Regions from separate parts of the Homo sapiens genome. Here regions 1 and 3 are each linked to region 2. The links come from fine-mapping of genetic effects on gene expression. A gene starts in region 2. Each other region holds a variant in brackets. All regions are shown on one strand. Distances are between the middles of the regions. Region 1 overlaps LOC124904625 (a long non-coding RNA gene). Region 2 holds the start of ZNF557 (zinc finger protein 557). Region 3 overlaps RFX2 (regulatory factor X2).

Region 1 (9,309 bases), 23 kb before region 2:
GGTCTGCTGGGTGCAGGAAATGTTGGAAGGTTTGCTTGCTGGGCTGTATCACCTCCTGTATTATGGGAGCTTAGAGTATTTGCCAGCTTGTCAGGACTACCATCGTCTTCCATGTTCTGAGACTGGAGTACCCAACATTCCCCTAGCAGGGGACACTTGGCTTGATAGGGCTCTATCAATCTATATTGTGAGGGTAGAGATACTCATATTGCAAGGGGAGGCTGCAGGAGTTGCCTGCTGGGGCTAAGATTATTCCTTGTGTTTGGGATAAAGGAGGGGTCACCGCAGGGGCAGTCAACTCATGTTGGGGGAGACGGGATTTGCATTCTGGGCTCCCCTCCTCGTTTATGTTAAGGGTGTTGCTTGCTGATGCTTCTATTAACTCTTACTTTGGGATAATGGGAAGAGAGATAGTTTTCTGGGGTATGAGTTTGTCACTTATGTTGTAGAATCTGGGGGGCTGCCTGTTGAGATTCTGACCATTGCTTGTTTTGGGTGTCATTGCTGGGGATACTTATTTATAGTCTTGGGAAGACAAGGGATGCATGTTGCAGCGGTAGTGGGTAAGAATGGTGGCATTTGCTGGAGTTCTTTTTTTTTTTTTTTTTTTTTTTGAGACAGAATCTTGCTCTGTCTCCCAGGCTTGAGCGCAGTGGTGTGATCTTGGCTCACTGCAAACTCTGCCTCCCGGGTTCAAGAGATTCTCCTGCCTCAGTCTCCTGAGTAGCTAGGACTACAGGCACGTGTCACCACGCCCGGCTAATTTTTGTATTTTTAGTAGAGACGGTTTCACCATATTGGTCAGGCTGGTCTCGAACTCCTGATCTCGTGATCCACCCGCCTTGGCCTCCCAAAGTGCTGGGATTACAGGCGTGAGCCACCATACCCAGCCTGGAGTTCCTTTCTTGAGTGTGTAGAGGATTGAGGGTTGATTGGTTTTTGGAGTTTCCATCATTAATGTAGGAGCGATACGGGGAATCACTTGGCGAAGCTTTCATTGTCTCTGATGTTGGAGGTAACTGGAGGGCCAGTGCCTGGGGCTTCCATTTTTTTCTAGTGTTGAAGGGTCAAGAGCATTTATCAGATAGAGGCCTTACTGTGTATTGTTTGGGGAGAGGATGGAGGGATTATTGGATGGGGTTCCACTTATCTCTAGTTGGGGAGGGTCATATTCTGGGTCTCCGCTTGCCTGTACTGTTGGTATAGACTGGGTAGGCCATTGGGCTTGGAGTCCCCATTCTTTAGTGTTGAGGGGCATCTGAAGGGGTCATTTCAGGGACTTCTGTTATAGTTTTGGACGTGACTGAGGGGTGCTTGCTGGAGTAGTTTCGCGATGACGGAGGTCTTCATGTTTGGACTCCATCTTTTGTGTTTGTAAGTGATTGAGGGGTGGAGATCTGGCATCCTGTTGCCTCTTGTTTTGAGGGTGACTGGTGGTTACCTGCTAGGGCTTCTGTCAGCTCTACTGCTGTATGCAGATTGTGAGAATCACTTGCTGGGGCTTCCATAATCTCTAGTCTTAGGGGGACTGGGAAATGGCTTGCCATGCTTTCTATTATCTCTAGTTTTAAGGGACCAGTTCAATGTGATTTAAAACTCTTTTTATTTGAAAAAAAAAAAAAATTAGGGCTGGGCACGTTGGCTCACGCCTATAATCCTAACACTTTTGGGAGGCCAAGGCAGATGGATCACTTGAGGTCAGGAGTTTGAGACCAGCCTGGTCACCATGGCGAAACCCCATCTCTACTAAAAATACAAAAATTAGCTGGGCGTGGTGGTGCACACCTGTAGTTGCAGCTACTTGGAGGCTGAGGCAAGAGAATTGCTTGAACCCAGGAGGCGGAAGTTGCAGTGAGGTGAGTGTGGGCAACAGAGTGAGACTCCGTCTGAAAAAAAAAAAAAGATTTAGACGTATAAAAGTGTTAAAACTATACAGGCTTGATTTATACAGTCAATATTTATTTGTATTTGCTCACATTTTATCTTTCCTGATTATCCTTATATATTTCTGGAATTGCTTCCACATGGAATAATTTTCCTCCAGCCCCAAAACTTTCCTTCTTTCTTTCCTTCTCCTTCCTTCCTTCCTTCCTTCCCTCCCTCCCTCCTTCCTTCTTTTTTTTTTTTGAGACAGAGTCTCGCTCCATCGCCCAGGCTGGAAAGCAACGGTGCGATCTCAGCTCACTGCAACCTCCACCTCCTGGGTTCAAGCAATTCTCCTGCCTCAGCCTCCCAAGTAGCTGGGATTATAGGCGACCGCCACTACGCCCAGCTAATTTTTTTTTTTTTTTGTAGTTTTAGCAGAGATGGGGTTTTGCCATGTTGGCCAGCCTTGTCTCGAACTCCTGACCTCAGGTGATCCACCTGCCTCAGCCTCCCAAAATGCTGGGATTACAGGTGTGAGCCACCGTGTCTGGCCCAAAACTTTCTTTAGTGTTTCTTGAAGTGCAGTTCTGCTGGTGATGAACTATGTTGTTGCTGAAACACCAGGGGTTCAATCTAGGTCCTGCTGCTCACCACTGCACAGAAAGCCTATCGCTGAGACAATGAGTATTGCCAAGGAAGAAGGCTTTAATCAGCTGCTGCAGCTGAGGAGGTGGGAGAACAATCTCAAATCCATCTCCCTGACCAACTAAAATTTGAGGTTTATATAGCAGGGAAGAAATGTTACCATGTGTGGGAATACAGGAATTAGGGAAGGGTAAGGAAGAGGAGTTGGTCAACAGGAAGCAGGTGGTCAGTTAGGCAATCATGATGGGTGATGGGTCTGATGTCTCACTGTACAAATGCAGTATTCTGGTGCGTTTCAGCTCCTAGATACTATCTGGGAGGCCTGATGGTTGGTTTCCTGAGAAAGGAACTCAGATAAGATAAATGTAACTTTCTTAAGTTTTAAGATTGGGAAGATCAATTTGTTTGTTTATTCAAGGAAACCATAAACATCAGCAATATGGGAAAATTGGGCCAGTTTCACTTTCAGGTATTTAAAAGAAAAATCTATTGGATTTTGGATATCAATTCTTGTCCTTCACTTGGCGCTAAGTTCATGTCCCTACATAAGATACAAAGGGGGCCGGGCGCGGTGGCTCCCGCCTGTAATCCTAGCACTTTGGGAGGCCGAGGTGGGCGGATCACAAGGTCAAGAATTCAAGACCAGCCTGGCCAACATAGTGAAACCCCATCTCTACTAAAAATACAAAAATTAGCCGGGTGTGCTGGCGTGTGCCTGTAGTCCCAGCTACTCGGGAGGCTGAAGCAGGAGAGTCGCTTGAATCCAGGAGGCGGAGGTTGTAGTGAGCAGAGATGGCACCATTGCACTCCAGCCTGTGTGACAGAGTGAGACTCCATCTCAAAAAAAAAAAAAAAAAAAAAGAGATACAAAGGAAGCTACTGTTGGGATAATGTCATTTGGTCGTATTCCCATCAGAAACCTTAAGCTTTGGCCACAACCAGGACTCTTCATATAAAATGGTGATGGTGGTGGTGGGGAACCAGGGAAAAAGCGGAAAAAATTAAAGATTTTTTAAAAAACCCAAACCCAAAGCATAGCTGTCTTCTATTCCTGCTTTGGGACCTGGTCTTCAGGACTGAATTTAATTCTTCCACATCCATTCCACATTCTGCTTTCTCTCTGCCAGTCCCTTATCTGAATGGATTTTTATTTTTATTTTTTTTTGGGATGGAGTCTCACTCTGTCGCCCAGGCTGGAGTGCAGCGGCGCGATCTCGGCTCACTGAAAGCTCTGCCTCCCGGGTTCACGCCATTCTCCTGCCTCAGCCTCCTGAGTAGCTGGGACTACAGGCGCCCGCCACCACGCCCGGCTAATTTTTTGTATTTTTAGTACAGACAGGGTTTCACTGTGTTAGCCAGGATGGTCTCGATCTCCTGAGACCGGCCCTGAATGGATTCTTTACCCTGATAGAGTGATCTTATCTCGGATCAGGTTTTCTGGGAACAGATTTTGTGCTGGCAATTTTTTGTTTATTGGATAAAACTCCTGGGAACAACATCTTTAAAGGCATGCGAGAAGCGGAGGGGACAGATGAGGCTGACATGTAACTTGTCAACTGAGGCTGCCGTCGATCCCACAGGGAGTTCTGGTGCTGGGGTTGCCCTTCAGGGGTGTCCTACATTGAAACAAAGGCACTGGACCTTTGTACCCCCTACATCAACCAGTCACTGGAAGTAGGCAACCCCTGGAGAGAGAGCATAATCTTGGGTTGGGCACTTTCCTCTGGGCCTTGGGGAGTTCCCAGAGAGGACAGCAGCATCACCATCATCAGGCAACACCTCCAGCAGCTAGGGGAGTGCCTTAGTCTTTTCTTTTTTCTAGATGGAGTCTTGCTTTGTCACCAGGCTGGCGTGCAGTGGCAAGATCTTGGCTCACTGCAACCTCCGCCTCCCAGGTTCAAGCGATTCTCCAGCCTCAGCCTCCTGAGTAGCTGGGACTACAGGCACACGCCACCACGCCCAGCTAATTTTTTTTTTTTTTTTTGAGATGGAGTCTTTGTCGCCCAGGCTGGAGTGCAGTGGCGCCATCTCGGCTCACTGCAAGCTCCGCCTTCCAGGTTCACGCCACTCTCCTGCCTCAGCCTCTCGAGTAGCTGGGACTACAGGTGCCCGCCACCATGCCTGGCTAATTTTTTGTATTTTTAGTAGAGATGGGGTTTCACCGTGTTAGCCAGGATGGTCTCTATCTCCTGACCTCGTGATCCGCCGGCCTTGGCCTCCCAAAGTGCTGGGATTACAGGTACGCCCAGCTAATTTTTGTAGTTTTAGTAGAGACGGGGTTGCACCATGTTGGCCAGGATGGTCTTGATCTCTTGACCTCGTGATCCACCTGCCTCAGCCTCCCAAAGTGTTGGGATTACAGGCGTGAGTCACCACGCCTGGCCTTAGTGCCTTAGTCTTAAAGGAAGAATCTGGGAAATATGCCACTGAAACCATGCCTAAAGTGTTAAAGCAAAGACTAGCAGAAATTCTTGATGTGTTGGAAGCTGGTTCCTTCTGGTGGGTTCGTGGTCTCGCTGACTTCAAGAAAGAAGCCACAGACCTTCACTCTTAAAGATGGCACAGACCCAAAGAGTGAGCGGTAGCAAGGATTACTGTGAAGAGCAAAAGAACAAAGCTTCCACAGCTTGGAAGGGGACCCGAGCTGGTTGCCGCTGCTGGCTGGAGTGGCCAGCGTTTATTCCCTTATTGACCCCTCCCATGTTCTGTTTCTGTCCTATCAGAGTGCCCTTTTTTCAATCCTCCCTGCAATTGGCTGCTTTCAGGATCTTGCTGATTGGTGTGTTTTACAGACTGTTGATTGGTGCATTTTACAATCTTCTTGCTAGCTACAGAGCGCTCACTGGTGCGGTTTACAATCCTAGCTACAGAGTGCTGATTGGTGTGTTTTACAATCCTCTTGTAAAACAGGAAAGTTCTCCAAGTCCCCACTCGACCCAGGAAGTCCAGCTGGCTTCACCTCTCATTGAGTTTGCAGGATGGCAGGTAAAAAAAGAAATAACTTGCTAAAACGCTGAAACTGCCTCCACTTGTAACAAAACTGCCTAAAATCTGTGAGAACCCACATGGCCAAATGGAGTTTGTGCAGAATGAGCTTGCTGATGTCACAGTGCAAATTTCCAC[G/CACG]TGTTTCATACAAACTCCCTTGAGTTAGTATGACTTTGCACATGGAACCCATGGGGAGGCATGAAGAGATCATTGCACCTGCCTGAGGACTTAACAGACCTTTCCTCCCACCAATCGCCTGCTAATCCCAGAATCCACGCCCTACACCTTTTCTAAGAAAATTATTGCCTTAAAGTCAGCATAAGACAAATTTGAGCTGGACTCCTGTCTCCTTGTTAACTTGCAATACAAACCTTTCCTTTTCTCAAAAATCTGATGTCATAGTATTGGCTTCTAGCACATTGGGTGAAGAGCTCTTTTGCTGGGTAGTGCCACCACTGTACCTACTGTGGTCCACCATGTGTGCCACTCAGATGCCCTGCATTCATTTTGTTTGTTTTGTTTTTGAGACAGAGTCTCCCTCTGTTGCCCAGGCTGGAGTGCAGTGGTACCATCTTGGCTCACTGCAACCTCTGCCTCCTGAGTTCAAGTGATTCTCCTGCCTCAGCCTCTGGAGTAGCTGGGACTATAGGCATGTGCCACCATACTCAGCTATTTTTTGTATTTTTAGTAGAAATGAGGTTTCACCATGTTGGCTAAGCTGGTCTCGAACTCCTAACCTCAAGTGATCTGCCCGCCTCTGCCTCCCAAAGTGTTGGGATTACAGGCGTGAGCCACTGTGCCCGGCCCCAGGATTCTTAAAGTAAGTGCCCTCAGGATCCAGGTTGGTCCCGTTGCCTGGAGAAACTGACAAGAGGAAGATCAGTGGGACAAACTGTAGACAGCCCTTTCCACCTGAACAAGTCTCAGAGATGCAATTGATGCTTATCACACTCCTTTACTTGCACCTTCCAGATTCCCTTTACCCTTGACTAGGGTGAAAATTCTAGATTTCCTTCTCACCTAGATCCTGCTGGTCTAGGTGGCTTACCTGGAGAGCTGCTCCAGATCCTTATGCCTACGGGGTCTTCACCATGCCCTTCTCAGGACATAGCTGGTGAAATTTTTTTATCTTTTTCTTTTTTGGAGACAGAGTCTCGCTCTGTTGCCCAGGCTGGAGTGCAGTGGCGCGATCTCGGCTCACTGCAAGCTCCGCCTCCTGGGTTCACGCCATTCTCCTGCGTCAGCCTCCCAAGTAGCTGGGACTACAGGCGCCTGCCAACGCGCCCAGTTAATTTTTTTGTATTTTTTGTAGAGACAGGGTTTCACCATGTTAGCCAGGCTGGTCTCGATCTCCTGACCTTGTGATGTGCCCACCTCGGCCTCCCAAAGTGCTGGGATTACAAGCGTGACCCACCACGCCTGGCCAAAATTTTTTTATCTTTAAAATTGGGGAAAGAATAGTAAGAGACATCCCAATGGATTCCGTGAATGCCAAATGTTTTCCTCCCTGCACTCATCATGTAACAGCAGCCTCAGATTCTATGGATGATAGCATTAATTACCTAAGTCAGTATGGTGACTTCTTTCCTTGTGTGCTGGTCTCATAGAAGTCACAGTTTAACATCCGATGAGACTCTTACTGTGTCTCTTGGTGGAAGTGTTTCCCTCTGGGAACCAAGTCCTTTAGGTTACTTCTCTTTTTTCTTTTTTTTTAGATGAAGTCTTACTCTGTCACCCAGGCTAGAGTGCAGTGGCATGATCTCGGCTCACTGCAATCTCCGCCTCCCGGGTTCAAGAGATTCTCCTGCCTCAGCCTCCTGAGTAGCTGGGATTACAGGCGCCCACCACTGTGCCTGGCTAATTTTGTATTTTTAGTAGAGACGGGGTTTCACCATGTTGGCCAGGCTGGTCTCAAACTCCTGACCTCGTGATCCACCGACCTCGGCCTCCCAAAGTGCTGGGATTACAGGGGTAAGCCACTGCGCCTGGCCAGGTTAATTATTTCTTTTGCTTTCCTCCCCAATGGCTCTGTTCCTCATCCTATACAGGAAACACTGGTGTTGGCAACTATGTTAGGCTTCATCGGGGAGTATCAGTGCATGGACACCACCCCAGGGTAGCTGAGCAACTGATAGAATTCCTGGGCTTGGATATGAACTTTCCATCCAGGTGATGGGCATGAGTAGATTCTGAGAAGCAAAAGGAGTGACCAATACTGGGTATCTTCCATTCGCCCCAGCAGATTCACCTCCTCTACCCTGCTGTACTTGGGATGATTAGTTACTATGAATGCTATCAACGAACTCCCTTACCTTATTGGCTTTTGGTTGAGTTTGGCAAATGGGGAACCCAAATATGATATAAGAAGAATGAAGGACAAGGAGGGCTGGCCCTGGCTATTTCTTTCTCTTTTTTGGTGGTGGTGGGGGGGTGGGGATGGAGTTTCACTCTGTCACCCAGGCTGGAGTGCAATGGCATGATCTTGGCTCATTGCAACCTCCACCTACCGGGTTCAAGCAATTCTCCTGCCTCAGCCTCCTGAATAGCTGGGACTACAGGCGCATGCCACCACACCCGGCTAGTTTTTGTATTTTCAGTAGAGAATGGGTTTCATCATGTTGGCCAGGCTGGTCTTGAACTCCTGATCTCAAGTGATCCACCCACCTCGGCCTCCCAAAGTGCCAGAATTATAGGTGTGAGCCACTGTGCCTGGCCGACCCTTACTATTTCTTGCAGAACTCGAGGCTGGATGTTGCCCCTCACTGACCTCCTGTCAGCTCCTGGAATGCAGCCCTCTCCTCGCTTGAACAACAACTTGCAGTTCTCTTCCTTTGTCCCTTCAGGCTTATGGGTGTCCTACGATCTGCCATTTGTTTGGAAGCTGGAGAACCAAGAAAGCTGGTAGTCTTGCTCCAGTCCAAGCTCAAAGACCTGAAAACAGGGGAGCCAACAGTGTAAACCCCAGTGTGAAGTCCAAAGGCTTGAGAACCAGGAGGGCCAATGGTGTAAGTTGCGAGTCTGAGTCTGAAGGCTGGAGAACCAGAAGCACCCGTATCTGAGGTGGGGAGAAGACCGATGTTCCATTTCAAGTACCTTTTGTGGTTTCCCTACATCCTGTTCACAATTCTGTGAGGAGCCCCTTGATATAAACTGCGCTTGAATCATCCCAGTTGACGTGTGTGTCAACTGTTTCCTGCTGGGACTCTTGATATTCCAACTTCCTGAACATGTAAGGAAAAGCCCTAACAATGACCTATAAAACCCCACAAGATCAGGATCTGCATCTCCGATTACCCTCTAATCCCTGAATCCCTATTTTACCTGAGTCATACTGGCCTCTGTGCTGTGGGTCTTTGCATGCCAACAGTCCTCTTGCCACAAGTTCCTACTCAATAGTCTCTCCTCAAATGCACCTTAACTGGGGGCCTTTTCCTTCCTATGCTACATAAAATGGAAAGTCCCCAGCCCTCCGTAACTCTCTCACAATGCTTTATTTTTCTGCACAACATGAATATTGTTGATTTTTCTTTTTCGATGGAGTCTTGCTCTGTTGCCCAGGCTGGAGTGCAGTGGCGCGATCTCGGCTCATTGCAACCTCCACCTCCCAGGATGAAGCGATTCTCCTGCCTCAGCCTCCTGATTAGCTGAGCGCACCACCACACCCAGCTAATTTTTTTGTATTTTTAGTAGAGATGGCGTTTCACCATGTTGGTCAGGCCGGTCTCAAACTCCTGACCTCATGATCTGCCCCAGCCTCCCAAAGTATTGGAATTACAGGCGTGAGTCACAGCGCCCGGCCATGTTGTTGATTTT
Region 2 (10,805 bases):
CAGTTGGGGGCAGGACGACAGCCGCCATCCTGTGACTCCGACAGCAACAGGGCAGCCGGGAAGCAGGACGCTCCTCCTTTATCCCGCAGCGCTCTCAGGACAGCACCCTGGAAGAAATGGGGGGAACACTCTGCCTCGGTCACCCCCTCCAGCCCGTGCCCTGCGTCGGTCACCCCGTCTCCTGCCCGTGCCCTGCCTCGGTCACCCCGTCTCCTGCCCGTGCCCTGCCTCGGTCACCCCCCCTCCTGCCCGTGCCCTGCCTCGGTCACCCCCTCTCCAGCCCGTGCCCTGCCTCGGTCACACCCCCCCTCCAGTCCGTGCCCTGCCTCGGTCACCCCCCTCCAGCCCGTGCCCTGCCTCGGTCACCCCCTCTCCAGCCTGTGATCTGCCTTGACCACCCCCTCCTCCTGGTTTCCACCTCACCCAGCTCAGATGTCACTACCCCTCATTTCAGTTGATTTCCTCCTCCCCACTCCCCACTCTCATGCCAGCCCAGCAGAGCTCCAGCCATTTTCTATCAGAGACCCTAGGTTCCTGCAACTTCTAAGAATCGATCTGTAAGATACACAAATGTAAAAGTTGTGTAAGATTATTCACTGTGGCATTACAGTGCACCCATTAAAAAAAAAAGAGAGAAGATCTCTAGATATCAATAGAGGTTATTATCGTCAGTAAATTTAAGGGGAAAAAAAAGTACCAAATAGCATATATGGAATGTTTCCTTTTTTATGAGAAAAGAAGGGCTGTGTGTGTGTGTGTGTGTGTGTGTGTATATACACACAAAGATGAAAGCGGCTGGCCAGGCGCGGTGGCTCCTGTCTATAATCCCAGCACTTTGGGAGGCCGAGGCGGGCGGATCACGAGGTCAGGAGATCGAGACGATCCTGGCTAACATGGTGAAACCCCATCTCTACTAAAAAAATAAAAATAAAAAATTAGCTGGGCGTGATGGCACACACCTGGAATCCCAGCTATTTGGGAGGCTGAGGCAGGAGAATGGCGTGAACCTGGGAGGCAGAGCTTGTAGTGAGCCGGGATTGCACCATTGCACTCCAGCCTGGGCAACAGAGCAACACTCCATTTGGAAAAAAAAAAAAAAAGTGGTCAAGGGTGTGTGTGGGAGGGGTTGGTGGGGGCGGGGGCAGGCGCTGTCTGCAGTTAGAGACTTGTAAGAGTTTGGGCCAGGTAGACAAAACAGAGCTGTAGAGGGTGGACGGTGCTGGCTATTCATGGAAGGCAGGGCCACTCAGTCTCTCTAGGAATTTGTATTGAGATGTAGCATTCAGGCCCTGGCTTCCTTCTAGATCTCTTGCCCAGGGAATTTATCCTGGGTGACCCCCATACCCCCAATCTCCGGGGAGAGAAGGATTGGGAGAGGACTGAATGGAGAGCCATTCCCCACAGGCCAGTTGTTCGCTGGTACTTGGAGCCAAGCAGAGATGGGAGGCTCTTTCCCATTCCTGCCTGCAGCCTCACAGCCCCCACCCTCCAGTTAATATAGCTGCCAAGTGTCTCTGACATCTGGTCTCTGTGGTGTTAACAGAACCCCCAAAATTCACATATACATGTGAAAAGTTTATATATTTGTACTTATATGTAAAAGCCTGAAAGTTTTAGTATTATGACATGCAAGAAAATCTGTATTATAGCCAGGCACAGTGGCTCACGCCTGCAATCCCAGCACTTTGGGAGGCCGAGGTGGGCGGATCACCTGAGGTCAGCAGTTCAAGAACAGCCTGGCCAAGTTGGTGAAACCTTGTCTCTACTAAAAATATATTTAAAAAATTAGCTGGGCATGGTGGTGGGTGCCTGTAATCCCAGCTACTTGGGAGGATGAGGCAGGAGAATCGCTTGAACCCAGGAGGCAGAGGTTGCAGTGAGACCAGATCATGCCACTGCACTCTAGCCTGGGTGAGAGTAAGACTCCATCTCAAAAAAAAAAAAACAAAAAAAACCAAAAAAACAAATATCTGTATTATTTCTCTACAGTTCCATGTATTTATACTTGTTTGTGAGTGGGCTCTTCCAGCAGCTGTGTTGCACAAACGGTAGAGAAGAGAACTCTGCACAGGTGAGCCCCTGGTGGGTCGCCCCCTCTTCCCTCCCAAGTCCAAACCAGGCATAGCATTTCCTCACCCAGTTATTCCTCTCAAATCCCTTCTGCAGCCCTAGGGTCCCGACGTTGACCCCTCATTCACGTTTTATTGATACCTGCCCCCAGCTGGGTGCTGGAGATGGAGGGGAGGAAGATCCCTGTCATCTAAGAACTGGCTTTCTGGGAGCAGGACACACACACAGACCTGCTGCTGCATTTCAGAGTGATATGTGATATGGCAGAGGGGCACATGGCATCCAACCCAGGATCTGGGAAGAAGGGGACTGGGAAGCCTTGGAAGGAAAAACACTAAGAACATTTGAATTGAGTCTTGAGAGTCGAGGTAGGGTCTTGCTCAGTGGAAAGTGCACGTGCAGAGGCAGGAAAGCAAGCTGCTTAGGAAGCCAAGTTCACAGTTTGGAGCATGTGGACAAATAAGGGGCCAGAGTGCACGGGAAAGGTTGTATTTTGAAAGGTATTATAAAGAGTGGTGAGGAGTTTGAACATGAGAGGCAGTGGAGAGCCAGCAAAGGCTTTTCAGGCAGGCGAGTGACTAAAGCAAATTTATCTTTATGTATTTATTTTGAGACAGTCTTGCTCTGTCACCCAGGCTGGAGTACAATGGTGAGATCTCGGCTCACTGCAACCTCCGCCTCCTGGGTTCAAGCAATTCTGTCTGCCTCAGCCTCCCGAGTAGCTGGGATCATAGGTGCCCACCACCATGCCCAGCTAATTTTTGTATTTTTAGTAGAGACAGTGTTTTGCCATGTTGGCCAGGCTGGTCTCGAACTCCTGACCTCAGGCGATCTGCCCACCTCAGCCTCCCAAAGTGGTGGGATTACAGGTGTGAGCCACTGTGCCTGGCTGTATTTTTTTTTTTTTTTTTTTTTTTGAGACGGAGTCTCGCTCTGTCACCCAGGCTGGAGTGCACTGGCATGATCTCGGCTCACTGCAAGCTCCACCTCCCGGGTTTATGCCATTCCCTTGCCTCAGCCTCCCGAGTAGCTGGGACTACAGGCGCCTGCCACCACGCCCGGGTAATCTTTTTTTTTTTTTTTGTATTTTTAGTACAGACGGGGTTTCACCACGTTAGCCAGGATGGTCTCGATCTCCTGACCTCGTGATCTGCCTGCCTTGGCCTCCCGAAGTGCTGGGATTACAGGCGTGAGCCACCATGCCCAGCTTTTTTTTTTTTTTTTTTTTTTTTTGAGATGCAGTCTTGCTCTGTTGCCCAGGCTGAAGTGCAGCGGTGCCATCTTGGCTCACTGCAGTCTCCGCCTCCCAGGCTCAAGAGAGTCACCACACCCAGCTAATTTATATATTTTTAGTACAGACGGGGTTTCACCCTGTTGGCCAGGCTGGTCTTGAACTCCTGACCTCAGGTGATCCACCTACCTCGGCCTCCCAAAGTTCTGGGATTACAGACAGGCTTGAGCCACTGCTCCTGGCCACAAATTATCTTTTACAATAGCCGTTCTGGCTTCATTGCAATGGACAGATGGGAAGAGACTAGAACAATGCCGCCCAGCAGGGCTTTCTGGGATGATGGAAATGATCTTAATCTTTGCTGTTCAATAGGGGCATTAACCACATGTCGCTGTCAAGCACTTGAAATGTGGTTAGTGCGACTGAGAAGCTGAATTTAAAATTTTATGGAATCTTAATTGGTCTACATTTAAATTAAAACAACCGCATGGACCAGCAGCTACCTTATTATACAGCATAAGTCTACAGGCTGGCAGGCCTGTTAGGAAAAGAAAAAAATAAAAGAAAAATTGAGATGTCTTGGAAGGTTGAAAAAAAAACTTTTAAATAGTGTTTACATGTTTTGTGTACTGATTTGCATATAGCTGTATTTACTGACTTATTTTGACACACATTATCACACACCCCTTAGTATCCTTCTCTTGAATATAAGGCATCAAACAAATAATTTTTAAGATACCCTCACTCGTGGCTCACACCTGTAATCCCAGCACTTTAGGAGGCCGAGGTGGGTGGATCACCTGAAGTCAGGAGTTCGAGACCAGCCTGGCCAACATGGCAACACCCCATCTTTACTAAAAATACAAAAATTAGCTGGGCGTGGTGGTGCACCCTTGTCATTCCAGCTACTTGGGAGGCTGAGGCAGGAGAACTGCTTGAACCTGGGAGGCAGATGTTGCAATGAGCTGAGATCGCACCACTGCACTCCAGGCTGGGCAACGGAGTGAGACTCTGTCTCAAAAAAAAAAAAAAAAATACCCTCACTGTTAGTGAGTCCTTGTGTTTACAACCTGAACACAGGAAAAATCCATTCACAGGTTTTCTACACAGTGGAGTCTTGCAACTTGCAGGTTCTACACGGTACCTACCTGATCATACAGAAGTCCACGGATCAGTGAGGATAGGTGAAACTTGAGGCTGGTTTCAACACAAATCTGAGCTTGAATTATACTTTTTTCGTCTAAATAAAAAGGGCACAAAAATCGCTTATGAGGCCTTTTGTAGGGAGTAATATGTACGTATAGTAAAATGTATTTACTGAGACTAATACAGTTGTTGCATAGAAAGACCACCCCATTCACTTAAAAAAAATTGATTTAAAGAATAAGAACCCAGGCTACTGGCTGTGCCTGAATTCACCAGATTCCTATCCAGCCATCTGGTCCCTAAAATGGGACAAGAAGCTTAAAGCTGTTTTCATCTGACTTGCTTAACTCATTTGGCTGGAGATTGTATGGTGACTCCAGATGCTTTAAATTCGTCACTTTAGGCCTTATAAGTGGACTCGGCTGAATTCTAAATAATTTCTACAGTGTATTCAGGACTGCAGAGATTTTAATGCCCTCCAGCAGGGTTTCCCAACCTGGGCACTAATGACATTTGGGGCTGGATGAGTCTTTGCTGGCGGCGGCTGCTTTACGCGCTGCAGGATGCTGAGCTGCTAGCATCCCTGGCCTCCACCCTCTAGATTACAGTAGTAGCACAGTCCCTCCTACCCTCCATTTTGTGACATCCCAAACCGTCTCCAACTATAGCCAAAAGTCCCCTGGGGCGCAGAATCGCCCCGGGTGAGGGCGACAGGGTGAGGACGACAGAGTGAGGATGACAGGGGCGCGGGGCCCGGACACCGGAGGAAACAGCAGCTTCGGGCTTAACTGAGCGCACAGCCCGAGGCCTCAGGGGCGGAAACCCGGCTCCCGGGAGGGACGCAGGCCCGCGGCTGGGGCCCCTCTCTGGACTCGGACTCACGGAATGAAGCACCTCTCGCGGAGACCGAAAGATTCTCCCAGACGCTGCAAGCGCGGCTCTTCTCACAAGACACAAGCGCGCTTCCGCTTCCGGTCTCCGGCTAGCCACACTGCACCTCCGCTTCCGGCTCCAGCTGGTCCCAGCCCAAAATGCGGCGTGTCAGGACCCCCGGGTTCAGGCTGCAGGTGCAGCAGCCGCGCACCCCAGCCTCCGGCTGAGGTGTTCTAGTTTGCTTAGTTATTAATAGAACCAGGTTGGGCCCTGGCTAGGGACAGCCGCGGAGGCAGGGTCGTCCTGGCGCGGGTCTGTGGCAGGGTTGGGGGCGGAACTAGCTCTTGAGCGGGGCTGTGGGCGGTACCAGGCCTGGAGGCGGGCCTGAGTGTTGACGGGGACCAGTTCCGGGGGCGGGGACCAACTCTGGAGCGGGGCTGTGGGCGGTACCAGGCCTGGAGGCAGGGCTGAGTGTGGGTGGAGATCAGCTCCGGGGGTGGGGAGAAGTTCTGGGGCGGGACCGTGGGCGGTACCAGGCATGGGGGCGGGGCTGTCAGGACAGAGACTAAGTTCCGGGGCGAGGTTGTGGGCGGGCATTAGGTTTGATGGGCGGATCTTGCTGTGGGTTAATACCAGGTTTGGTGGGCGAGTATGTGGACAAGATAAGGCAGTGGTGGGGCATGGAATGGGGTTGAGCTAGTAGGCTGAGAGGACAAGACTTGGTGGAGGTCAGTTTTTGGGTGTAGGGCTTTTTGTGGATTTTAAAACTGTTCAGGTAGCAGGATGCAAAATGAACTCTTTAAAGTTTTCTTCAGTCATTTCTCCACATTCACCGCCTGTTAAAATGATATAGCCACACATTTAGGGCGTGTGTGTGTGTGTGTGTGTGTGTGGCTTTTCGTTTGTTTGTTTTGAGACAGGGTCTCACTCTGTGGCCCAGGCTGGAGTGCAGTGGTGCAATCATAGCTCACTGCAGCCTCGACCTCCTGAGCTCAAGCCATCCTTCCACCCGGGCCTCCCACACTACCAAGCCTGACTATTTTTGTATTTGTTTGTAGAGAGGAGGTCTGTGTTGCCCAGGATGGTCTAGAACTCATGGCCTCAAGTCATACCCCACTTCGGCCTCCCAAAGTGCTGAGATTACAGGTGTGAGCCACACCACACCCAGCCTTTTTGTGTGATTTTGAGCTTCCTAATTTCTTTCAAAAATGGGATCATGTATGCATATTTCTCCCATCCAGAGGGGGACGAGGGGAGGGAGGACTAGGGAGGGATGTCTCCAAGTGAAAGCCAAAGCTGATTAATTGTCTAGTGCACATCTGGATCTACTGAAAAGAGAACTACATTTCTGGTGGAGAAAATAGGTGTTGGATTCATAGGAAGAAATAAAAAAGGAAATTTTAAAATTTAAGAGATCAAAAGAAAAAATGAGAAAAAATTATTAATGACATACTACTTGTTACATGTCTGGCTAAGGTTTAGATGCTACAAATGGTAAATATTGATGTCATAAAATGATAAACATTGAATTTTGATTTATCCAGATTCCTTAAATGATTATGTTTGGTGAGGAAAATTAGTTTTACAGTACGTAAGAGTTATGTGCTAATTGTTTCGGAGAAGAAAGTAATTCAATATAGTTTAAAGCTGATAAATGAAAAAGCAGTATAAATACCTAACTTACAAATATGTAATTACTATCAGAAAAAAAAAAAAGTTGCTTCTAGGAGCCAGGCTACAGGGTGAGGAAGGGAGCTTTTCGTTGTGAAAATTAAGATGTTATTTGAGATCTATGTGTGAACACATACAGCCTGAATTTGTATGCAAAAGGAATCGCTAAACTCTAGGGAAAAAATGTGAATATGATTCACTTTACAACAATGGAATGTATTTGAAGACTCTGGAATTCAAGAATTAAAAGGAAAAAAAACCAAAAACCCTATGGCCATCCTAGTGGACAAATGAATGGGACATTACTTTCCAACCTGCCTGGTAATAAACAGTTTTACATACATTATCCCTAAATATTTTCACAGAGACCTATAAGGAAGGTGTTACTATCTATCACTATTTATAGATGAGGAAACATATGGTGATCTGTGTGCTAAATTTTTCATATTTCATTGTGGGCAACAAGCCATCCAGGTGCCGAGGCAAGAGACCGAGGGCATGAGCTGTTCCAGTATAATAAAATATATAAAATAAGAATAGTTATACTAGATACAGATCATAGATATGATTATATGTGAATAGCATTAATCATTAGTTTGTAGCAATTACTCTTTATTCCAATATTATAATAATCCTAACTCTACAATCATAACCTAGGAAAAACCAGGCCATACAGAGATAGGAGCTGAGGGGACATAGTAAGAAGTGACCAGAAGACGAGTGCGAGCCTTCTGTTATACCCGGACAGGGCCACTAGAGGCCTCCTTGGTCTAGCGGTAACGCCAGCGGCTGGGAAGACGCCTGTTGCCAAGCGGACCTTGGTCTAGCGGTAGTGTCAGTATCAAGGAAGAACACCCGCTACTTAGCAGACGGGGCAAGGGAGTCTCCCTTTCCCCAGGGGAGTTTAGAGAAGACTCTACTCCTCCACCTCTTGTGGAGGGCCTGACATCAATCAGGCTCGCCTGCAGTTATCTGGAGGCCTAACGGTCTCCCTGTGATGCTGTGCTTCAGTGGTCACACTCCTGGTCCTCTTTCATGTTCCATCCTGTACACCTGGCTCTGCCTTCTAGATAGCAGTGGCAAAATTAGTGAAAGTACTAAAAGTCTCCGATATGCAGAAATAATGGCGTAAACTGTCTCTCTCTCTCCCTCTCTCTCTCTGCCTCGGCTGCCAGGCAGGGAAGGGCCCCCTGTCCAGTGGACACGTGACCCACGTGACCTTACCTATCATTGGAGATGGCTCACACTCCTTACCCTGCTCCTTTTTCTTATATCCAATAAATATCAGCACAGCCTGGCATTCAGGGCCTCTACCAGTCTCTGCATCTTGGTGGTAGTGGTCCCCCAGTCCCAGCTGTCTTTTCTTTTATCTCTTTGTCTTTATTTCTACAATCTCTTGTCTCCACACACAGGGAGAAAAACCCACTGACCCTGTGGGGTTGGCCCCTACATTTCATAGTTCTTAATGTTGTTTTATTTAAAAGTTTTTAATTAGATTTTTAAAATTAATAAAATAATATATGCTCATTCTCACAAATATGGAGTATGTAAAACACAATTCAAAACTCCCTTTCCCGGGTGTGGTGGCTCATGCCTGTAATCACAGCACTTTGGGAGGCAGAGGTGGGTGGATCACTTGAGGTCAGGAGCTCGAAACCAGCCTGGCCAACATGATGAAACCCTGTCTCTACTAAAATTACAAAACAAATTAGCCGGGTGTGGTGCCTGTAATCTCAGCTACTCGGGAGGCTCAGGCAGGAGAATTGCTTGAACCTGGGAGGCAGAGGTTGCAGTGAGCCGAGATCACGCCATTGCACTCCAGACTGGGCAACAAGAGTGAAACTCCATCTCAAAAAAAAAAATTAAAGTAAAAAATAAGATAAAACTCCCTTTCCCTTCTCTAATTTGACTTTGAGGTGACCATTACTATAGTCCTTGCTCTACAAAAAATTAAACTTAAGACATGTAATAATATAATTTACTACATAAATACTAGAAAAAGCATTTTATCACAATATATATTCCTATATTGAGAGTTTTAAAATAGTTTTTAAAAATACTATAATACTATATACTAATTATTCTGGAGATTACTTTAAAAAATTAACAGACCATGGACTTTTTTCCAGGTAGATATGAGTGTTTAGCCAAGTCTTAAATAAGTGGTATGATATTCCAATTAATTGCTGTACCAAAATTTATTTAATCACTCATCTACTAACACATAGTCATATTATGTAGTCTTTTTTTTTTTTTAATTTTTTAAAAAGAGGCAGGGTTTTACCATGTTGCTCAGGTTGGTCTTGAACTTCTGACCTCAGGTGATCCACCTGCGTCGGCCTCCCAAAGTGCTGGGATTACAGGCGTGAGCCAGTGGACCCAGCCGAATAAATCAGATTTAATATCTAGACAGAGATGGATGCATACCTATAAAAATTTATAACCTATAAAAATTAATGTTAGAAAGTTTAATTTACCATCTAATTTCTAATTTTACTAACAGTAATAATATATATATTTTTGAGACAGGATCTCTCACTCTGCTGCTCAGGCTGGAGTGCAGTGGCTCCATCATGGCTCACTGTAGCCTCGAATTTCTGGGCTCAAGTGATCCTTCTGCCTCAGCCTCCTGAAGAGCTAGGACTACAGGTGCACACCACCACATCTGGCTAATTTAAAACATTTTTGTAGACATAGGGTCTTGCTATGTTATCCAGCTGGTCTTGAACTCCTAGCCTCAAGTGATCTGCTCACCTCGACCTCCTGAGTAGGTGAGATTACAGGTGTATGCCACCATGCCCAGCTAATTTTTCATTTTTTTCTTTTTCTTTTCTTTTTTATGGAGACAGGCTCTTGCTATTTTGCCTAGGCTGGTTTTGAACTCCTGGCCTCAAGCAATCTTCCTGCCTTGGCCTCCCAAAGTGCTGGGATTACAGGCATGAGCCACCACTGCTCCTGACCTGGTCCTTGTACTTTGAAAAGGGCATGACATGAATGAATATATTTAGTACCTCGATTGTGGTGGTGGCACCATAAGTGTGTGCATATGTCCAAACCCATCAAAATGTATACATTTATTATTTATTTTTATTTTTGAGACCAAGTCTCCTCTGTCACCCAGGCTGGAGTGCAGTGGCAGAATTTGATGGGCAAGCTCCACAATTCTTCCACCTTGCGATCCAGCAAGTAGGAAAAAAAAAAAAAAGGTCAATCCAGAATTTACTAAAGTAAAAGTCTTCTGTGTATTGGAAAGGGTTCACTGTCTTGAGGAAGTGTTGGAAACCAGAGATTTCTCTCTTTTGGTGTGAAAGGCAGAAGTAAATTCTTTAGTAAATTTTCTCTTTGTATCTCTAGCATCTGACAGTCATTGGTCTCTGGTTTTTTTGTTTTGTTTTGGTTTTTTGTTTGTTTGTAATGGCGCCGTCTCAGCTCACCACAACCTCCGCCTTCCGGGTTCAAGCGATTCTCCTGCCTCAGCCTCCCAAGTAGCTGGGATTACAGGCCTGCACCACCACGCCCGCTAATTTTGTATTTTTAGTAGAGACGGGATTTCTCTATGTTGGTCAGGCTGGTCTCAAACTCCCGACTTCAGGTGATCTGCCCGCCTTGGCCTCCCAAATTGCTGGGATTATAGGTGTGAGCCTGGTCTCTGGATGCCCCTGAGAAAGTCATATTCTAGGATGGGGTACTTCTCTGTGTTGCGGAATTCCTGGCGTCCTGTAATCCTGATGTTTCCAGTAAGGCACACAGCTATGAACTGTCAGCAGTCAGTATTCTCAGCAGCTGGGGGATGGAGGCATTGGCCATGGACAGG
Region 3 (10,805 bases), 980 kb after region 2:
TGCTAGGACTGCAGGCATGAACCACCGCACCCGGCCTTAGTTATTTATTTATAGGCATTTTGGTTATACCTTCCACTTTACCGCCAATGCTGCAGTAAGCACCCGTGTCCAAATATATTTGTGTACACGTGTGAGATGTTTGCCCACTCGCGGCAGGGAAATTGCTGAGCCTGATGGACTTCCTCCCCTTGGCGTTAGCTTGCCGCCACTTACATCTGCGCTCCATTCCTACTATAAAGGTGACTTTCCACTTTTGTCCTCTCCTGAAACTACGCCGCCTCCAGCAGGACCGGGGCCACCTCCTCGCCTCCCCGACACCACAGGGCCTTTTTTTTACCACATGCGTGTCCGTTGCCCTAAGTCCCCGTCCCACTCCTTGCCTCTCAGGCCAACACAAACTCTTTAGCTTCTTAACATTTCAGAGTAGCAGGTCCCGGACCCTTTGACAGCCTCGTGAAAACTTGTGTCCCCACCCTCCAGGAGAATGCACACTGAACTCACCCACAGTGTTCTGTGGGCCACTTAGGAGGTGCTCAAACCCCCTGGCAGCCTCTCCCTCCCCCGGCCCCTCCTCTGGAACGTGTTCCCTGTCAGCTTAGCTCTGCCTATCCTACAGTCCACGTGTGACTGACTCAGCCTCATTCTGTCACCGTGAGCTGCGCCCATGCTCGCGTGTGCCTCTTGGGGAGGCCTGGCTGCTGGGCTGGTTTGCGCAGCCACAAGCTCATGCTTGTCGCCCTTGACTCCTGCGCGGACTCGAGCCTAGCAACGGCCTGCCCCGCCCCTCTGAATTCCCTCTGGACGCGTGGCTGTAAACTCTGCTACCTTTATTCTCCAGCAGAGCACTCGTTCTTCTGCCTTCTCAGCGGAAGACCTTCCTTCCAGCAGCCCAGCATGCAGCCTGCGGGGCCACCCTCCGTCCCAAGCTGCTTTCTTGGGTCATTGACCCCCTGCTGCCATGGCCCGGGTTTAGGGACTTGAGCCCCTGCTCTCTCCAGCCCGAGGAGGGAGCTCAGTTGTGCAGCCACTAGATCCTGTTCTTGAATGTCTTCCTTGCTGTTATAGTTGGCTTCTTCTTATGGTACAAATTCTTTCTCTTTAACTCTACGTAAACAATTTAAAACCAGAATTCCTGTGACCTAATCCTCGATAAAGTTATTCATTCTTAATCTGAGCTTTTCTCCTATTTTAAATTCAGTGAATCATGGTTTTCTTTTTTAACATCCTTTAAGATTTCTGAGACACCAACCTCCACAGTTTTCCTCCCCCCACTCCCGGATGTAGAATCTTCTAGAAACTCCCTGCTCCTTTATTCTCCAGGGTTAATGTTCACTGAGGGCTTGGCCCAGAAAGTCTACAATTCTCTGACTCCCAAACTGGGACATAGTCTCATTTCAGATTCCTGATTGTAAAATGCCTACCTCCCGCAGTTCATTCCTCATTCAGTCCCTCGGCTTATTCTGTTGATGGGTCTCATGTAAACACGTTTTGCGGCTTAGACTCAGAGTTCCTGAAACAGATTTCCCCACACCTACTTCTCTCCCATCACTCGAGATTTTCACAAACAGTCTGTTAGGGATCGTGTCCAACAGATATTGTTGTTTGTTACTGAAGTTTATTTCTGAAAATGTTCGAATTGTACTTTGTACGTTCTCGTGCCTAATTTTCTCATAATTATGAGAATATTGCATTTTACTTCTCCTGAGGTGAGGAATGCAGGAATGCTTTTAGTCTCTATATCATTGTTTCTCTTCGTGGCTGGCATTTGCCAGCACTCAGCGTCATCTTCTTTTTTCAATTGTGATAAAATTCACATACAATTCACCTTTTTTTTTTTTTTGAAGATAGGGTCTTGCTCTGTCGCCCAGGCTGCAGTGGGGTGGTGCGATCATGGCTTATTGCAGCCTCCACCTTCTGGGCTGGGACTATAGGTGCACGCCACCATGCCTGGCTAATTTTTTGTAGAGACAAGGTCTCACTATGTTGCCCAGGCTGGTCTCAAACTCCGGGATTCAAGCAATCCCCAGCCTCAGCCTCCCAAAGTGCTGGGTTTACAGGCATGCGCCACCACACCCAGCCCAAAATTTACCATTTTAACCACTTTAAAATGGTTTTCATTTGGTGGATTTTAGGATTTTCACAGTGTTGTGAAGCCATCATCACTCTCTAATTCCAGAACATTTCCATCACCGTGAAAAGAAACTCCATACCTATTAGAAGTCGATCACAGTCCCCTACTCCCAGCCCCTGGCAAACACCAAGTCTGCTTCTTGTCTATGTGGGTTTTCCTATTCTGAATATTTCCTGTAAATAGAATCATACAATATGTGACCTTTTTCGTGACTGACTTCTTTCACTTGTGTGTATATAAATATATATTTAAGCCCTGGAAGGTTGGGTAATATTGTTTTGCAGTTCATCCACATTGTAGCCTGTGTCAGAGCTTCATTCTTTTTTATGGCTGAATAGTATTCCACTCCATGGGTGGACCACATCTGTTTATGCATTCATCCCTTGATGGGCATTTGGGTTGTTTCTACCTTTTGACTATTACGAATAGTGCTGCTATGAATATTTGTGGACAAGCTTTTGCCTGGACATATAGCTTCATTTCTTCAGGGAATATACCTAGGAGTGGAGTTGCTGAGTCGTATGGTAACTGCAAGTTAACTGCCAAATTGTCCTTTCACAGTCCCACCGGCAGGGAGTGAGGGCTCCAGTTTCTCCACATCCTCACCAACACTTTTATTTTTCCCTGTTTTTAGTATAACCAGCCTCGTAGGTGTGAAGTGGTGTTTCATGGTGGTTCTTATTTGTGTTTCTGTAATGACTGATGATGCTGAGCCTCTTTTCATGTGCTTTCATCTGTCTATAGCTCTTCTTTGGAGAAATGTGTATTCTTTTTTTTTTTTTTTTTTGAGACAGAGTCTCACTATGTCACCCAGGCTGTAGTGCAATGGCGTGATCTTGGCTCACTGCAACCTCACCCGGCTGAGAAATTTGTATTCAAAGGTGTTATCTGGGCTGGCATGGTGGCTCATGCTTGTAATCTCAGCACTTTGGGAGGCTGATGCAGGAAGATCACTTGAGCTCAGTAGTTCAAGACCAGCCTGGGCAACATGGTGAAACCCTGTCTCTATGAAAAATTCAAAATGCAAAAATAGCCAGGTGTGGTGGTGTGGGCCTCTGGTCTCAACTACTCCAGAGGGTGAGGTGGGAGGACCTCTTGAGCCTGGGACGTTGAGGCTGCAGTGAGCGATGTACATGCCACTGTACTCCAGCCTGAGTGACAAAAGCGAGAACCTGTCTCAAAACAAACAAACAAACAATCCAAAGATGTTATCTTATACAAACAATCCAAAGATGTTATCTCATATAATAATTTTCTCTAATCCACAAGTTTCTGTTCCTCTGTGAAATGCCCAAAGACCCTGAATCATGAAGGTCCCCAGCACATGTAAGAGCTACACAGGGTGGTGGAGGGAAGGGAGGGTGACAGTTCATTCAGATGCTACAACAAAAATATTAGAGACTGGCTGGCTTCTAAACAACAGGAATGTGTTGCAGTCAGCTCTGGAGGCTGGGAAGTCCAAGATCAAGGCACTGGCAGATTCAGTGTCTGGGGAGGGCCTGCTTTCTGGTTCGGCTTCTGCCTTCTAGCTGTGTCCTCACGTGATGGAAGGGGCAGGGGAGGTCTCTGGGGCCTCTTTTGCAAGGACCCTAATCCCATTCCTGTGGGTGCCATGCTCATGACCTAATCATCTCCCAAAGGCCCCACCTCCAGATGCCGTCATATTGGGGGTTAGGTTTCAACATGTGAGTTTTGGGGGGACACAACATTCCAACCATAGCACAGGGTCAGAATCCAGAGGACATGAGGGCTGGCCTCCCCCTTCCCTGTGACATTGCTCCAGCTCCTGCCCGTGCACACTCCCTTTTCAGAGACTGCCCAAAACCCCACATCCTCCGCCACTGAGATGGAGACAGGACAGGAGTGTTGGTCTTCACCCCCAGAGTGTCCCTGACCTGCTGGACGCAGATTTCTAGCGTGGTTATTTGTCATTACATGGGCTATTTGATACCTGCCCTTTTATTTATTTGGAGTTATTTTAGGCTCTGTTTTAAAGACATGAGTCCAAACATCTGAGTCTAATACAGAGTGGGCAAACTAGCCCATGGGCTAAATCCAACTCACTGCCTGTTTTTGTACAGCCCATGAACTAAGAATGCTTTTTTCCTACATTTTTAAGTAGTTGGAAAAATCAAAAGAAGAATATTTTAGGACATACAAAATTATCTGAAATTCACATTTCAGTGTCCATAAATTGTGCTTGCTTCAGCAGCAAATATACTAAAACTGGAACCATAAATAAAGTTTTATTGGCACACAGCCACAGTCATTTCACCCTACAATGGATGGGGTTGAGTCATCTTGACAGCGAGCGCTTGACCTGCAAAACCTAAAATATTTACTATTCCACATTTTACAAAAAAAGCTTGCCACCCCCTGGTCTAACGCACATTACTTGGCTATATGTGACTAGTACTCATGTGTATATGAATGTGATGCTGATTTTGAGGTTTATAAAACCCCTTAGGCTCTTCAATGGTGTTTAACATATTTTTGCTTTCTCTAAGAGAGAGAGGAATAATATTTACTTTGTTATCTTCTCCAGTTTGTTGTAATTAAAGAAGAGTCTTTGGCTACATCCATCTTGCAGGATGAATTTCGTTGCCTTCTTATACCTATGAGAACTGTGCCTTTAAAAAAAAATGCTGGGCTGGCATGGTGACTCAAGCCTGGAATCCCAGCACTTTGGGAGGCTGAGGCGGGTGGATCACCTGAGGTCGAGAGTTCGAGACCAGTCTGACCAACAGGGAGAAACCCCATCTCTACTAAAAATACAGAATTAGCGGGGCATGGTGGCACATGCCTGTAATACTAGCCACTCAGGAGGCTGAGGCAGGAGAATCGCGGGAGGCGGAGGTTGCAGTGAGCCGAGATCACGCCACTGCTGTCCAGCCTGGGCAACAAAAGTGAAACTCCGTCTCAAAAAAAAAAAAAAAAAAAAAAAAAGCTGTAGTGCCCTGGCCCTTCTCTGTGGCATTCTTCTTTGTCTTTCAGGCCCTGGCCAGCCTGGGTTAGGCTTAGAGCAGCACTCTGGGCTGGGAAGGGCTCTGTGTTCAGGGGTCATTGCTTCCTCTTTGTTCTCGTCTCTGACTCACCAACATGCAGCTCTGGGTGACTGTCCCTTGAGGACTGTGGCTTCCTGGCGGGTTAAGCCAGTTCTGGAAGTGGGTGTGCAGCTTATGGCAGCCAGGAGTGGTTTCTGAAATTAATTACTGCTCTAGATGATGATGTAAGGAGTGAGACTCCTGGGGAGAAACTGCCCATGTGGAGAAACCCAGCACCTGTAACCCATCACCTTCGTATCAAAACACGCTGTCCACCTAAGAAGGGCGAATGTGCCATGGCTAATCAAGGAAAATAATTTCTGTTTAGCTGTCAAAAAAGCTATTTCCATGATATCAGCCCTTTGATTTGGAGCTGAAACCTCCAAATCAAAATAAATTCTGCAGCATCTGAATCTTTTGTTGTAGCTGGATTTTTTAGAGTGAAGGCATTGCTAGGAATTACTGACAGAGTCCAGGGAGGGGCTAGAATTGGAATCGGGCTTCTCTGAGGTGAGAAAGTTAGTGGGGACTCGCCTTAATGCCTGGCTGTGGAACTGATCAAGGTCACTGGCTAGATGTGGTAAATCAGATGGGCTTCCTTGGGTTGGATGGGTGGATGCTAGAAAAAACTGCACTTCTCTCTAAGTCCCTTTACTCGCCTCTGGCAGGCATCT[C/T]CCTCCTGGGCTTCCTCTGATCCTCGATCCTCAATTCCTGGGCTTGGTGGACTGTGGGTTAATTATCTCCTAAGTGTTCTTTGAAAGCAGAGCCAATTATCAGCACAGTCCCTTCCCAGGCTGTTTGAATTCCTAAATACAGGGCAGTGGGAGGGAGGAGTAGCCACCTGTGGACTGTGGCTCCCTGCTGGAGACGGGTGTGCGTCTCGCTTCGCCCCTGTGAAGGTTATGCCTGTCGCCCTGTCTATCATGAGTCTGTCTCTGCAGCTTGTGGCTTCTGACCCGCTGCGACCATCTGCCTGTGCTCAGTCCCCACCCAGGAAGTGAACTGATTCTGTCACTTTCTTCTAAAGACCACAGATCTGCCTGGTTTATACAACGAAGCTCGTCTGAATTGGAGTCCTCAAATTTGTGAATTTAAGTTTTAAAAGATTAAAAAAAAAAAGACATACTGCTGTAGCCCAGTGGTTTTTAATCTTTCATCAGTCTGGATCTCTTTCAAAATCTGCTCAACACTGGGAATTTCTCCTCAGAAGAACAGGCATGGAAGGGCAAAAATTACATGACAATCTACGTTAGTAGTAAACAGAAAAGGCAGAGGTGCCCATGTGATGTTTGTATCTCTGTAGAGTTGTGTGGTCAGAACAGACAAATTCCCTTTGCAAATAATAGTAAGGAAGCGCATCACTGAAAACAGGAATGAGCCGTGTGCGTGGATGCATCCATTACTGTCAAAGGGGAGACACAGAAGTCATCTAATTCCTGTGAGCTTCTCTTGCAATTCACTTTTACAGTGCCCTTTCCGGCAAGATTAGATTCTTGTGTGTTATTACTTAACTTTAATTATTTGCTTATAATGCAGTCATGCCATGCATAACATTTCCGTCAACAGCAGACCACATATACAAGTGATCCCATAAGATTATAATGCTGTATTTTTCCTGTACCTTTTCTATGCTTAGCCATGTTTGGAGATACAAATACTTACCACTGTGTTACAATTGCCTGCACTGTTCACTGCAGTCACATGCTAGACAGGTTTGTAGCCTGGGAGCAATAGGTTATACCATACAGCCCAGGTGTGCTACGTAGGTTGTAGCGTCTAGGTTTCTGTAAGTATCACTCTGTGATATTCGCACAATGATGAAATTGCCTGAGGTTGCATTGCTGAGAACGTATCCCTGTCAGGAAGCGACTCATGGCCGTATTTTACTCCTGCAAGGGTGCCAAGATCATTCGATGGGGTAAATACAGTCTTTCCAATAAATGATGCTGGGAAAACTGGGTTTCCACATTCAAAAGAATGAAATTGGATCTCCCCTGCCTTTTTTTTTTTTTTTTTTTTTTTGAGACAGGATCTTGTTCTATCACCCAGGCTGGAGTGCAGTGGTACAATCATGGCTCACTGCAGCCTCGGCCTCCTGGGCTCAAGAGATCCTCCTGCTTCTGCCTCCCAACTAGCTGGGACCACAGGCATATGCCACCATGCCAGGCTAATTTTTAAATTTTTTATAGAGACGAGGTCTCACTATGTTGCCCAGGCTGGTCTTGAACTCCTGGCCTCAGGCAATCCTCCCACCTCACCCTCCCAAAGTGCTGGGATTACAGGCGTGAGCCACTGTGCCCAGCCAGGACTTTTATTTTATAACATACACAAAAATTAACTCAAAATGGATCAAAGACCTAAACATAAGAGCTAAAACTGTAAAATTCTTAGCAGAAAACATAGGGAGACATCTTTATGACACTGGATCTGGCAATGATTTCTTGGATAGGACATCAAAAGCACTCACGACAAAAGGAAAAACAGAAGGATTAGGCCATCAGCGTTCAAAACTTTTGTGCATCAAAGAACAGTAGCAACAGAGTAAAAAGACAACCCAAGGAATGGAAGAAAATGTTTCCAAATCATTTCTAATAAGAGGTTAATATTCAAAATAGATAAAGAATTTCTGTAACTCAGCAAAAAAATTTTTTAATGGGCAGAGGACTTGAGTAGATATTTCTCTTTCTTCAAAGAAGATATTCAGATGGCCAATAAGCAGTTGGAAAGGTGCTTCATACCAGTTATCATTGCAGAAATGCAAATCAAAACCCTAATAAGATACCACTTCACACCCATTACGATGACTGTTACCCAAAAGAAGAAAGACAGAAAAATGTTGATAAGAATATGGAAAAATTGGAACTGAACCCATGTGAACTGTTGGTAGGTGTGCAAAATAGTGTAGCTGCTTTGGAAAACAGTATTTGTACACTCAGACAGGGATTTGTACACTCATGTTCATAGCAGCATGATTTACAATAGCTAAAATGTGGCAGCAACTCAAGTGTCCACCAACAAATGAATGGATAAATAAAATGTGATCCATCTATACAATGGAATACTATTCAGCCTTGAAAAAGGAAGGAAATTCTGACACAGGCTGCAACATGGACATTATGCATTATGCTTAAGGACATCATGCTCAGTGAAAGAAATCAGACACAAAAGGACAAATCCAGCCGGGCGCAGTGGCTCACACCTCTAATCCCAGCACTCTGGGAGGCCAAGGTGGGTGGTGGATCACCTGAGGTCAGGAGTTTGAGACCAGCCTGGCCAACATGGTGAAACCCAGCCTCTACTAAAAATATAAAATTAGCCGGGCGTGGTGGCAGGCACCTGTAATCCCAGCTACTTGGGAGGCTGCAGCAGGAGAATCACTTGAACCCAGGAGGCAGAGGTTGCAGAGAGCCAAGATCGCACCACTGCACTCCTGCCTGGGCAACAAGAGCGAGATTCTGTCTCAAAAAAAAGAAAGAAAGAAAGAAAAAAAAGGACAAATCCAGTGTGATTCCACCCCTAGGAGGTCCCTAGAGTCATCAGATCCATAGCGACAGAAAGTAGAATGGTGGGTGCCAGGGGCTGGGGAGGGGGTAGGGAGTGAGTGTTTCATGGGGACAAAGTTTCAATTTGGGAAGATGAGAATGTTCTGGAGATGGATGGAGGTGATGGTTGCACAACAGTGTGAGTGTGCTTAATGCTACTGAACTGTATATTAAACATGGTTAAAATGGTAAATTGTACATTATGCACATTTTACCACAATTAATGATAAAGAGTAATTGACTCGTCATATTTCCCAGCATTACTTTACTAGGAGGCATATGCTTTTTATGGTTTGCCTCTAGTAAGTCCCTACGCTGTCCTGCTAAAGCAGAGGATCACAGCTTTAATAAAGACCCTAAATATTTATCTTGCCTGTGGTCATGTATAGCTGAACAATGCACAGCGAACTCATTTAGTTTCCATGCGCTTAACTGGGCTAACTCTGCTTTTGAGCCTAATGGAAAGCTTGGGGCAGGTGGAGGACCGGTTCTTTAGCACTCACAGACGATTCCCACACCACACTCCCATATCCGGTCTTCTCTGCCGAGAATTCTCCCTGCCCAAGAGGTCTGGGGTGCCCTGGACACGTGTGCTCATCTCCTGTATTTGGAGATCTGGGGCTGGGAAGAGAATGTAAAGCAACCTAAACAGTAATTTAAGAATGGAGAAAATGGGACTAAATTATTCAGACACGTTTGAGTGCCTACTCGCTAGCAGGCATTTTCCGCTGCCTATAATTATGAGTAAGACATGTTCCCCCAAAGGCCATCCAAGATAGGGGTCACAGCCTGGGCAAGATGGTGAGACCCCATCTGTACAAAAAATTAAAAAATTACCCGGGCATGGTGGCACATACCTGTGGTCTCAGCTTCTGGGGAAGCTGAGCAGGAGGATCACTTGAGCTCTGGAAGTGGAGGCTGCAGTGAGCCATGTTTGCACCACTGCACTCCAGCCTGGATGACAGAGCAAGACCCGGCCTCAGAATAAATAAATAAATGAATAAAAATTAAAAAAAAAAAAAACGGGTCAGCAGACTACATCTAGCACACTACTGTGGGTTTTTATTTTTGTTTTTAGTTTCCACGAGTTGAGAATATTTTTTGCGTTTTTAAATGATTGGAAACAAGACAAAATATTTTGTGACACATGAAAATGATATGAAATTAAATTTCAGTGTCCATAAATAAAGATTTATTGGAACAGCACCAGCACCAGGGTCAGAACTAGCATGAGGCAGTGAGGCCCTCGCCTGGGATGCAAAATTTAAGGCAGTGCCTACAAAAATCCACAGTCATCAAGATACACAATGTTTTAATGCAGTATTTTAAAAAATCAAAATAAATGCCAAAAAATTTCATGATGAAGGCCGGGCACAGTGGCTCATGCCTGTAATTCTAGCACTCTAGGAAGCCAAGGCGGGTGGATCACTTGAGGCCAGGAGTTCAAGACCAGCCTGGACAACAGGGTGAAACCCCGTCTCTACAAACAATACAAAAATTAGCTGGGGGTAGTGGCACGTGCCCGTACTCCCTGAGCCCAGGGAGGTTGAGGCTGCAGCGAGCCGTGTTTGTGCCACTGCAGCCTGGGCAACAGAATGAGACCCTGTCTCAAAAAAATAATGGGAAAAAAATTCCATGATGAGCAAAATGTTGAAATTTTACATAAAGACAGGATCAGCACTGCTGCTTCTTTTTCCTCTTTGCCCCAGGCTCTAGCATGGCTCTGAAAAGCGCTGAGTGCAGCGGCCACACTCACTCCTCCTACTGTCCAGAGGCAGAGTTGAGTAGTCTCAACAGAGACCTGCAAAGCCAAAAATGTGTATTTTCTGGCCCTTATAGAAAGTTTTCCAGTGGCTAACACCTGTAATCCCAACACTTTGGGAGGCCAAAGTGGGCGGATCCCATGAGCCCTGGAGTTCAAGACCAGTCTGGGCAACATGGCAAAACCTCATCTCTACAAAAAATACAAAAACTAGCTGAGAGTGGTGGTGCACGCCTGTGGTCCTAGCTACACGGGAGGCTGTGGTGGGAGGATGGCTTGAGCCCAGGAGTTAGAGGATGAAGTGAGCTGTGATCGCGCCACTGCAC

What was found. PIP is the estimated chance that this variant, and not a neighbour inherited with it, causes the effect.
Region 1: its variant is the best candidate, but not a certain one, in a credible set for the expression of ZNF557 in blood mononuclear cells (TOPMed, PIP 0.76).
Region 3: its variant is the best candidate, but not a certain one, in a credible set for the expression of ZNF557 in lung (GTEx, PIP 0.79).

Annotation. Positions count from the first base shown.
Region 1 is chr19:7,088,482-7,097,790 of GRCh38, reverse strand. It overlaps LOC124904625 (a long non-coding RNA gene), which reads left to right. Exons shown (of 3, transcript XR_007067110.1): 2 at 5,340-5,496; 3 at 8,340-9,309. Among named protein-coding and RNA genes, the nearest start is that of ZNF557, 23 kb to the right of the region's middle. The variant G/CACG (reference allele first, on the strand shown) is at 5,635.
Region 2 is chr19:7,064,298-7,075,102 of GRCh38, reverse strand. ZNF557 (zinc finger protein 557) reads right to left here and starts at 5,400. Exons shown (of 8, transcript NM_024341.3): 1 at 5,330-5,400; 2 at 4,450-4,541; 3 at 1-107. The coding sequence starts at 28.
Region 3 is chr19:6,082,484-6,093,288 of GRCh38, reverse strand. The region is part of intron 1 of RFX2 (regulatory factor X2); the gene reads left to right. Among named protein-coding and RNA genes, the nearest start is that of RFX2, 23 kb to the left of the region's middle. RefSeq lists enhancers at 12-717, 5,508-6,007, 6,017-6,086, 6,008-6,509. The variant C/T (reference allele first, on the strand shown) is at 5,850.